Linked DNA regions of Homo sapiens: region 2 is reported to be linked to region 1. Evidence: microRNA targets listed by miRTarBase, many of them from high-throughput screens and not tested one by one. Region 1 holds a microRNA gene; the other region holds the end of a gene's coding sequence.
What was found. Region 1 holds the annotated microRNA hsa-miR-320d (AAAAGCUGGGUUGAGAGGA, at 2,619-2,637, opposite strand). A microRNA usually pairs through its seed, bases 2 to 8, with sites in the 3' UTR of a target mRNA and lowers its output. Matches are read on the target gene's strand: a 7mer-m8 pairs with bases 2 to 8, a 7mer-A1 pairs with bases 2 to 7 and ends in A, and an 8mer does both.

Region 1 (5,180 bases):
ATTAGTAAGTGTTCAGTTTAAGAAAACGTTGAGTAAGCTTATCCATCATTCCTACACAAAGAGTACAACAGCAAATATATTCCACAACAGTAAAGTAAAAAAAAGTAAATCCATCCCAAGTAAACTCAATAAGAAGGCTTTCCATGAACTGGGCAGCTGTTGGAACCAAGCTGATATGGAATTGCTATACATGCTATACATTCCAATACATGCCCAGAATTAGAATACTGATCCAGATTATTACATTAACCATCCCTCTTGTTTCTTCTGATCAGCAGCCAGAGATCACTGGTTGGTTCACAGGAATAAGCAGAGTTAGTCTAACTTGCAGAAAAAAACTCAAAAACAACTGATGAGACTATAATTGAGTAACAGGTATATCATAGTTTTTGAAACATATTTTTCTCTCTCCAGTATCCCATTTTTATGAAAGACAAATCATAGTAAGACTGATTTGCTTTATTATACTTGGCCTGATTATTTGTGTAAAGTGCAGCAAGAATAATTGTTTTTATATAGGCCTTTAAAATTGGCTTTGATGGAACTTTGTTCCATAAAAGGAATCTCAGATAAGAGTTTTTTTAAAGCTGAGCACAGTCATGGGTTTGTACCCTCAAATACCTATGAGTTGAGTAAATTCCTCTCCTCTTGAGATCCCAAGATAACAAGGGGCTCCTAGGCCTGTTAGAAAGTGACATTCTTTACTTACCACAGGTCAGGAACCCTGTACAGGGACTGTGCAGACAAGATAGGAGGCCAGTTTTCCCAAGGGGCTTTTATTGGCTCTATGCCCCACCCAAGCTGGCAATTCAGGATCTCTGGGAGTGGCCCTGGCTTCCTAGGTGATTCCAATGTGCAGCTCTAGAAGTCACTGCCTCACAGGAAGGTGTGATGGTCTTAGCACTTAATATGGTTCAGCTGTGTCCCTGTATGAATCCGTTCTCACGCTGCTAATAAAGATATACCTGAAACTGGGTAATTGATAAAAGAAAGAGGTTTAATGGACTCACATGGCTGGGGAGGACTCACAATCATGGTGGAAGATGAAGGAAGAGCAAAGGGACTTCCTACATGGCAGCAGGAAAGAGAGCATGTGCAGGGGAACTCCCCTTTATAAAACCATCAGATTTCATAAGACATTCACCATCACAAGAACAGCATGGGAAAGTCTTGCCCCCATGATTCAATTACCTCCCACTGGGTTCATCCCATGATACATGGGAATTATGGGAGCTATAATTCAAGATGGGATTTGGGTAGGGCACAGCCAAACCCTATCAGTCCCCACTCAAATCTCACGTTAAATTGTAATCCCTATGTAATCCCCATGTCAAGGAAGAGACCAGGTGGAAGTAACTGAACCATGGGGGTGGTTTCCACAATACTGTTTGTGATAGTGAGTGAGTTCTCATTAGATCTGATGGTTTTATAAGAGTTTGGCATGTCCTCCTTTGTTCATTCTCCTTCCTGCCACCTTGTGAAGAAGGTGCCTTGCTTCCCCTTCACCTTCTGTCATGATTGTAAGTTTCCTGAGGCATCCCCAACCATGCTGAACTGTGAGTCAATTAAACCTCTTTCCTTTATAGTCTCAGGCAGTTCTTTATAGCAGTGTGAAAATGGACTAATACAGCACTGAAGGATGAGTGGGATTTTATTAGGCAGATGTGTTGGTAATAACTCTTTGATCTAGGTGGTACAGATTCTTTTATCTTCATGTTTTTTGATTAAGAATCTAGGTTTCCAGACACTTAGCTCACACAGTAGCAGAGCAGGCTTTCTAAAATCAGGTCCAATGGTCTTTCCAGGACTCCAGGCTGTCAAAGCCAGGAAGGATTGAAGCAATTAATAAAAATTCATATAAATCTGCTCTGTCTTTTCAAAGTAGAAGTAGTCACAAAATGTTTTGTGTGAATTTTGAAATGAAATAAAACATCAACCTTTTTATGTAGATAAGATTTACATTCATATTTTCCTCCATAATGAGAAATGTTTTATGTTATCTGGATTGCAATTATAAGCTATATAAAAAGAGGGTTTTTTCTTTCAGTAAGTGTCTTATAGCATAAATATGATAAGAATTTGACAGATTTGCTGTTTTTTTCAAATTTATGCTAGCAATTCTCAGTAAAAAACATTTCTATCTTTCCACTGTTATTTTACCTAATGCATAAGGAATATAGTAAATAATATCATATGTGAAATCCAGCTAGAGCAGTAGCATACAAATTGAATAACTTGATGGTCTACTGAAACAGCCTCTTGCCACCCCCATATTACACACACACACACACACACACACACACACATACACACTATCTAAACATAAAAAACTCTAGCTAACTGAACTGGAGCAATAAAAATTAAGTAAAATAGAGATTACCTCAGAAGTGCATCCAAATCATACTGCAAGAATACTAAATGTGATTATTTTAGATGTTTTTTCTTCTTTAGATGTTTATAGACAGGAAATAGTGCATTTTTCTCCAACAACCCACAATATCAAGGCTTACTTGAGTGCATTAAAATAAGTAATTTTTTGTGGCAATATAATAGTGGGAAATCCAGCTTTTTTTCTTGAATTTAAAAATAACGATTTTTTTTTCTTTTTTCTTTTCTGCTCCTCTCAACCCAGCTTTTCCTGACTCCAAGAAGAACTGGGAAGAGAAGGCTTATTGATACATTTGAAGACATTTCAGAAGTAGAATTACAACTTTAGAAAGGCTAAAAGTTCCCACTTGCTTAAAGGTGATAAGAGCTGGTTAGCTTTACAAGGGCTCTAAGAACACAGTGAATATACAGACTTTAATGTGAAAAATGGCTACAAGTAATTGACTGGAGAATCCCAATTTCCAGTGGCAGCAGTCTGAAAATAAGCTGTCCACAGGGCCACACTCCCTTTAGGGCAGGGGTCCCTAACCCCTGGGCCACAGACCAGTGGTGAGCAGTGGGCCTGTGAGCATTACCACCTGAGCTCCACCTCCTGTCAGATTAGCATCCACATGAGAGTCTCATAGGAGCACCAACCCTATTGTGAGCTGTACATGCAAGAGATGTAGGCTGCATGCTCCTTACGATAATCTACCTAAAGCCTGATGATCTGATGTGGAACAGTTTAATCCCAAAACCGCCCCCCAACAACACCTCCCTGAGTACGTGGAAAAATTGTCTTGCATGAAACAGGTCCCTGGTGCCAAAAAGGTTGAGGATTGCTGCTTTAGAGGCTCTAGAAAAGAGTTTGTTCCCTGCCTCTCCCAGCTTTTGGTGGCTCCAAGAATTCCTTGATTTGTGGTAGCATCAATCCAATCTTGCCTCCGTCTTCACATCACCTTCTCCTCTATGTGTTTGTCTCTTCTCTTCTGTTTCTTATAAGGACACGTGTTATCAGTTTTGGGGTCCACCTGGATAATCTAGGATAATCTCATTTTGAGATCCTTACCTTAATTACATCTACAAAACCCTTTCCTCAAATAAAGCAACATTCACATATTCCAGGTATTTGGATGCGGACATATCTTTTGGGTTGGGGTCCCTATTCAACCCACCATGGTTTGTTTCAGTGGAATTAGGGCTGTACCATCTGCTCAAAAACATTAAAACAATTAGGAGGAGCATGAGTGTACCTCAATATCTTATTTGCAAAATGAAGATAGGGACATAGTTTGGTTAGCTAAGGTACGGTGTTTGGCTAAAATGCCATGTTTAACCAGTCAGCATCCACATCTTTAAGGTTTGCTTGTACCCGGTATAATCTCGTTTCTTGAAAACCGAGTAAGTGAAAAATTGGAGGTGAGGGCATAATAGAAACCATATAAAATAGAAAATATATACAAGTTTCTTTCTTTATTTCACTTGTTAGTAGTTCAGAACTTCATAAACACAAATATTACCACTAGCAAGCAGACATCCCCCAAACTCAAAAGTAAAGCATCGACAGATGTGTCTGGCTAGTTGGGTGAGACCATTTCCAAATACTACTTGTAAGTTACTGAGTTGGTTAAGGATCAAATGAGGTTCTGCATTTGAGGTTCTTTTTAAATTGTGTGGTATCATACAAGTGTAAAATATTGCAGTTGCTCTTTTGAAGGGGATAAGAATAAGTGTGATATCATAGATGAACACTATCAAAAAAATTTTTCAGTAAGTAGAAGTTAAAGACATTTTTGTTCGACACACCAAGCATGCTTGCACCTAGTTGGGGTGGTCATTGGGGTTTAGTGTCTGATTATAGATCAATCTAGCAGGTTATTTCCCTCTTCAAGAATGAATTGGGTTTGCATTAGAGATAATCTCCTTGTGCAGAAGTAGGTGAGTCAAGAGGAATTCCTTTCTTGCTTTATTAATTTATTTAGTTATTTATTTAGCTGATACTGATTCATTTGGGATGTAAAGATAGATGAAAATCTTAGAGAAAATGATTACACAATGAGGGAATTTGAGATCCTAGGGAAATAATAATCTGTCAGCAAGATTAAAAATCACTTTTAAGAAAGTGCATCTCATATTTGAGACATATAGTTGCAAAGATTCAGTAGAAAAAAAAATTCATCGCCAATATAATAACAGAGTTAAATGCCATAGAATAGTGGCTTTCCAACTTTTAAAAATCAAACCCCAATTTTTCCCTCAATTAATCTTACCTGGAAGCCCAATACATAAAAGAGACTAAAATGCAGCTGCTCTGGTTGTACTCTATGAAGCTGAGGGCGCGGATGAGGGCCACAATGGACTTGTCGGGGAACTTGCCACAGTTACAATTGTTTATTTCTTGTGTGATTCTTTGATCAATAGCTGTATTCTCCACCAGAGAAGACACCACTCCAGGCTGGGACTTTGATTTTGCTCTCGATTACATCTTTAGTGGCTAACACAGTGCCTGGCACTCAGTATATACTTGTGTTAATGAATGAATGAATGATGGAGAAGACAAAAAAAAAAGTGAATTGAAACAAGCTGGTCAGGCTGATGTCTGACACATCTCAGATGGCAGTGTTAATCTTTTTTCATCATCCTAGCATTTGTCACCAGTACTGGCAGCCAGAGAGAACATTGCATTTTGGTGCCTGGTGTAGTTCCTAGCACACAGTAGATTTTGGTAAATTAAATAAGTGATACTCAGTACATATTAGTTGACCAAATGAATAAGGTGCTAAATGATTGAATAAATGAATGACTGTGTTGTG
Region 2 (5,000 bases), not on the chromosome of region 1:
TACGTAGAACAATACCAGGCCCATACTAGATGCTCAATAAATATTTGTTAAATGAAACAGGGTGCCAGTTCCACATGCTGTAGTCCTAACTACTCAAGGGACTGAGACAAAAACCTTCTGGTTTTTGCACCTTTTGTTTCTTTTTCACCTTGATGGCCCTTGAACTCCTGAGCTCAGTTCAAGATCAGCCTGGGCAAAGGCTAGAAGAAGCAAGATCCCATATCTTGAAAAAATATATAAATAAATGAAAGAAAGAAAGGAAGGCATGATACTTCATTAGAAGTGCCTGCATGACCTACTGAAATCCCTGAGGATCAAATGGTCCACATGCAGTGGCTTCCCCCAGACCCAGGTGCTGTGCCCTTTGTTTTATTTTTGGAAAAGAATAAGGGTTGTATCATCTAAACCACATTTCCATTCCTGAGCCTCCAGGGAAGTCCTCCCAGATGATATGGAGCCTGCCACAGAGCCTCCACTCTCGACTTCCATTACCTTCAGACTTCATCTCTGAGTCCCCAATCCTTAAGAGCCAGGCATAAGAGCTGCAGCCGCCGCTGCAGCCGTTGAGTCATCAGGGAACCTGGGGCCCTCCTATGGTATGGCCTTAATCTGTCCTGAACCTAGGATACATACAACTGTCCCAGCCATGGAAGCTCACCCCAACACAAAGAGGGGATGTCTGCTGAGGCTTCCTGAGATACAAGCATGGGTGCATGAAGCCAAGGGGACAGGCCCCCTCTATGAGGCCTGTGGAGAGAAAGAATGGAAACCCTGGGGAGGAAGGCTGTCTCCTCCCCACCAGGCCTGCCTTCAGGGTTGAGGGTGGAATCCCACTTCCTAAGACTACAGCTGAGTCTTGGAGGCTCCCCATGTCAGGAGAAACAGGTTCTTGCCATGACTTTTCTTTCAATATCCCGTCTCAGGCCTAGGGGTGCAATGCAAGCACAGAGTCCTAAGGCCCCTTTGTAAAACTTTTATTTAGAAATCTTCCCGATACATCCTCACATATATATACACATCATCACCACATGGGTTTTTTTTGCTAAAGAGTCACACACCCACAGTGTTGGCCTCTGGGCTGTACAAAGGTCAAGGTACCTGGAGCGGTTACTCCTCTTCTGCAGAAAAATGCAGAGACCAACGCAATTCATCACATACAGTACAACGTTGACGGAAAGTGCTGGGCCCGCCCACAGAAACAATGCACTATGTACACGGGCAGGGGGCAAGTCTTCAGCAGAGGGTCACGTACCATCGAAATCACAAGTACGGCCAGACCCACCCCCAAAAGGCCGAAATAGTTGTCGGCTGACTACAGATGCTGTGCCCTTTGTTTTATTTTGGAAAAGAATAAAGGTTGTACCATCTTGTCATCTGCCATAACAAATAAAAGAATATGAATTTGTCTTAAAAGATGTGATTCCCTTCAGTGGTTATGGTCATCTTTGTTCTCAAAATGTTGTTTTGTTTTGTTTTACCTTTATGTTCTTTCCCCTTTGTACAGATGCTATTCTTGGAATGTTGCCAGTTTTTCATGGGTAACAAGGAAGGAGAGGAAGGATAAGGTCATGGGGTACAGAGGGTGAAAATAAAAATTACAGATCTTCTTTAGTTCTTACAAAGACCTAAAGACTTGCCCTTTCCTACCAGGCTTGTTTTGGGTAGTTGCATTACATTTTACACAGTCTGCCAGTGTTCCCATATCTCTTTTCCATTCTTATTACTGTCCCTGGCCTTGGAACAAGATAGAAATTAAGACAATCTGGGCTGGGTGCAATGGCTGACACCTGTGATCCCAGTGCTTCTGGAGGCAAAGGCAGGAGAATTGCCTGAAGCCAGGACTTCAAGACCAGCCTGGGCAATATAGCAAGACTCCATCTCTACCAAAAAAAAAAAAAAGTAAAAATTAGCCAGGTGTGGTGGCTCACACCTGTGGTCCTCCCTACTCGGGAGGCTGAGGTGAGAGGATTGCTTGAGCCCAGAGTTCAAGGCTGCAGACAGCAATGATGGCACCACTGTACTCCAGCCTGAGTGACAGAACAAGACACCGTCTCTCACACACACACACACACACACACAAATAGATAATCTGGAGAAATGAGGACAATCTCAATAACTCAGGCCAAAGCGGTTTACAATCTAAATTACCCAAATGCTGGGCAGTCAGGCACACCGGCCTACTGCCTAGGTCGTGGACTCAGGCTGCGAAACCCCACTGCAGGATTGAGATTGAGGGAAAAGAAAAAGTTCTTTACGTTCTCAAAACTGTCTACTTTCATGATCCCATTCAGTCCACACCATAGCCCTAGGAGATAGGCCAAGCCAGAGTCACATGGCAAGTCTGAAAGAAGAGGGAGCCAGAAGTTTGAGTTCTTAATAAAATATGTGATCCATCTCATAAAACCCATCCACCCATCCATACTGTGGCTACTTCTCATTCCTAACTCAAGCGAATCCACGGTGAAGCAAACAGCCTTAGATCCTACAGCAATGACTCTATCTTTAGACAGATGGGGCTCCTCACAGGATCTTCCAAACGTTGGAAAGGAACCAACCCTAATTTTCACCAAAACATGATCTGGGGAGCCTGAAATTGAATGGAGAGCCTGAGTGCTACAAAGGTGAACAATGTTGCCCCAAGCTCGAGAATTGGACCTTACTTAAAAGGAAGGGGAAAGGAGCAGACATATTCTCTGTCTGTACATGGCTGAATTAGGGCCCCATCATGGTGAGGACAAGCCACTAGGCTGAAGCCCAAACTATAAGGGGGGGCTTTCCAGACAGCCACAGTGATGAGTTCTTGCATGGCAGGACAGGGCCACAGGCTATCTCTCCTCTGACCTCGAAGGCAGAGCCTAGAGGGAGAGGGCTAGGGTGACTTAAGGGTACAATGACAGACATACAGGACTTCTGTGCAATTTGTCCCATGGGCTTAGATGCAGGTCACAGACAGGCCTCACCTTAAGAAAACCACATCCCACCATCTGGATTGACACAGGAAATCAATGAAGGGGCAGTGGTTCATTCTACAAAAGGATTCTTCACTTTACAAAAGGACTTGCAGTGGTTATTTCTTTAAAAGATGAAGGATAAGGATGTGATTTACAAAAATTTCATGTACAACTTTCAGAGGGGAGCACTTCTATTGCATTAAACCAACCTCCCAGACGCACCCTTGATGACCAAAAGCTGCACAACTGAGGGGTGTTTAAGGTTCTGCTAAGTGAATGTGCATATGTTTGGGTCTTAGCCAGGGCCTGGTCTCTGATTGGATTTCCCATACCCTAGAAGTGAGGCTGGATCCTGGTCCTATTGAGCGCTAAAGATTCCACCAATAACTGAAGTCAAGCAAAAATTCCAAATGCAAAGCATTCATAGGACAGGTTTTGTGCTCAATTCGGAACATAGACCAGACCATCAGCAAACAGACATCTTACAGCAAAGAAATCCCTCTAAGCATCCAGGAGAATGCACAGATGGGGCTGCGCATCTACTCAGCACCAGCGTACGCCCATCAGCACACTGGCATTCACTCGCCAGCATGAACAGTGATGTCGAGGAGTTGAAGCCCACATGCCCAAAATATCTCTTGCTCCATATCACTCTACTATCATTGTCCCTTTCTCTGCCTTCACACAAAGCCCGACAGGGCTTTCTCAGGGCTGCAGACATTGTCTCCACAGCCACAGGCTTAGGAAGGCAAGTCTCATTGGGGAGAAAGCAGAACTTTGATCCCCAGGGCAAGAAGTAAGGGCGACTGGGTTTCCTGACCCTCCGGCCCAGCTCATCTAGAGCAGACTGTCCACTGATCATCTTCTTCAACCAGGCCCTGAAGAAGGCACCTCGAGGCTTGTGACTCTGCAGCATCTGGCAAGCTGGATGGATCAACATAGGCCTGGGTGAAGATGGGGCTCACGAAATGGGCAGCTATTGGGTACCTATAAATATGGACAGAAGTGGCCACACAGGCCACCCCAGCCAGCTTGGGAGGGGCTAAAGGCAAGGCAGAGACTGCTGGATGCCTCAGATGAGAGCTGACAACCCCAGGTCTTAGGAAAGACAGGGATCCCAAACTCCAGGCCAAAAGCAGTGACAACTCCAGCCTCTTACTTGGGAAGGATTTGGGACTGAGGGAAGAGGGAAGACCGTGCCGTCTTCACAAAAAGTACCTACCACTTTGCTCCATTTTTCTGATCTCCTACTGGTACAGGAAACAGAAAAGCCAGCCCCAGGGTCAGTAAAGGCTTCCCAAAGTTCAGACATCCAGGAAAGTTCAAGTCCACCGCCTTGCTTCAGAGCCGCCCAATTCTCACCCCACCTGCCCTGAAGCCCACCATCCCAGCAGCCTAAGAACGCCCTCCTGGCTGATCCTGGTGGCCCAGACCCATCACCGAGGGCCGGCTCCATCGGCGGCAGGCAGCATGGCAGGATGGAGGCTGCGGGCCGTGTGCTTGGGCGCGGGCTCCTCCGTGTAGCTGTCCGGGCTGGCTGCCCCATCCAGGGAGCTGCCGCAGCTGGAGTTGGGGGAAAGCACGTCTTGCAGGAGGTCATCTGGGGGCGCGCCGCCCCCTCCCCCACCTCCACCCCCACCAGCCCCCACCACAGGGTCCTTGCCAGTCTTGGCCCGCTGGGTGCCCTCCTCCTCCTGGTCATTGAGCAGCTTGGCCAAGAAGTTGATATACTTCATGGCCAGGCGGAGGATCTCATTCTTGCTGAGCTTCTTGTCCGGGGGATGTGTGGGGATCAGCTTGCGGAGCTCGGCAAAGGCCCCGTTCACATTCTGCTGCCGCCATCGCTCCCGGCTGTTGGTGAAGATACGCCGCACAACTTTGGTGTGGGGACCTGGAGATTAGGAGGACAAGAGTTAGGAGAATGGGCTTGAGATTCCTTCCCCAAAGGCATCTCCATACATTGGGAAACTTGGGAAGCCTAGAATGCCTACTTTCCTTTTACTTAGAAAACATCCACCCTTCAAATTCAAGTTCCTGTGCTTCCTCATC

Region 2: the mRNA of TAL1 is a reported target of hsa-miR-320d. Seed matches in the 3' UTR shown: 7mer-m8 at 3,186-3,192.

Annotation. Positions count from the first base shown.
Region 1 is chrX:140,923,554-140,928,733 of GRCh38, forward strand. It overlaps MIR320D2 (microRNA 320d-2), which reads right to left and starts at 2,678; the gene lies at 2,607-2,678.
Region 2 is chr1:47,215,333-47,220,332 of GRCh38, forward strand. It overlaps TAL1 (TAL bHLH transcription factor 1, erythroid differentiation factor), which reads right to left. Exons shown (of 5, transcript NM_001290403.2): 5 at 959-4,842. The coding sequence ends at 4,388. Among named protein-coding and RNA genes, the nearest start is that of TAL1, 14 kb to the right of the region's middle.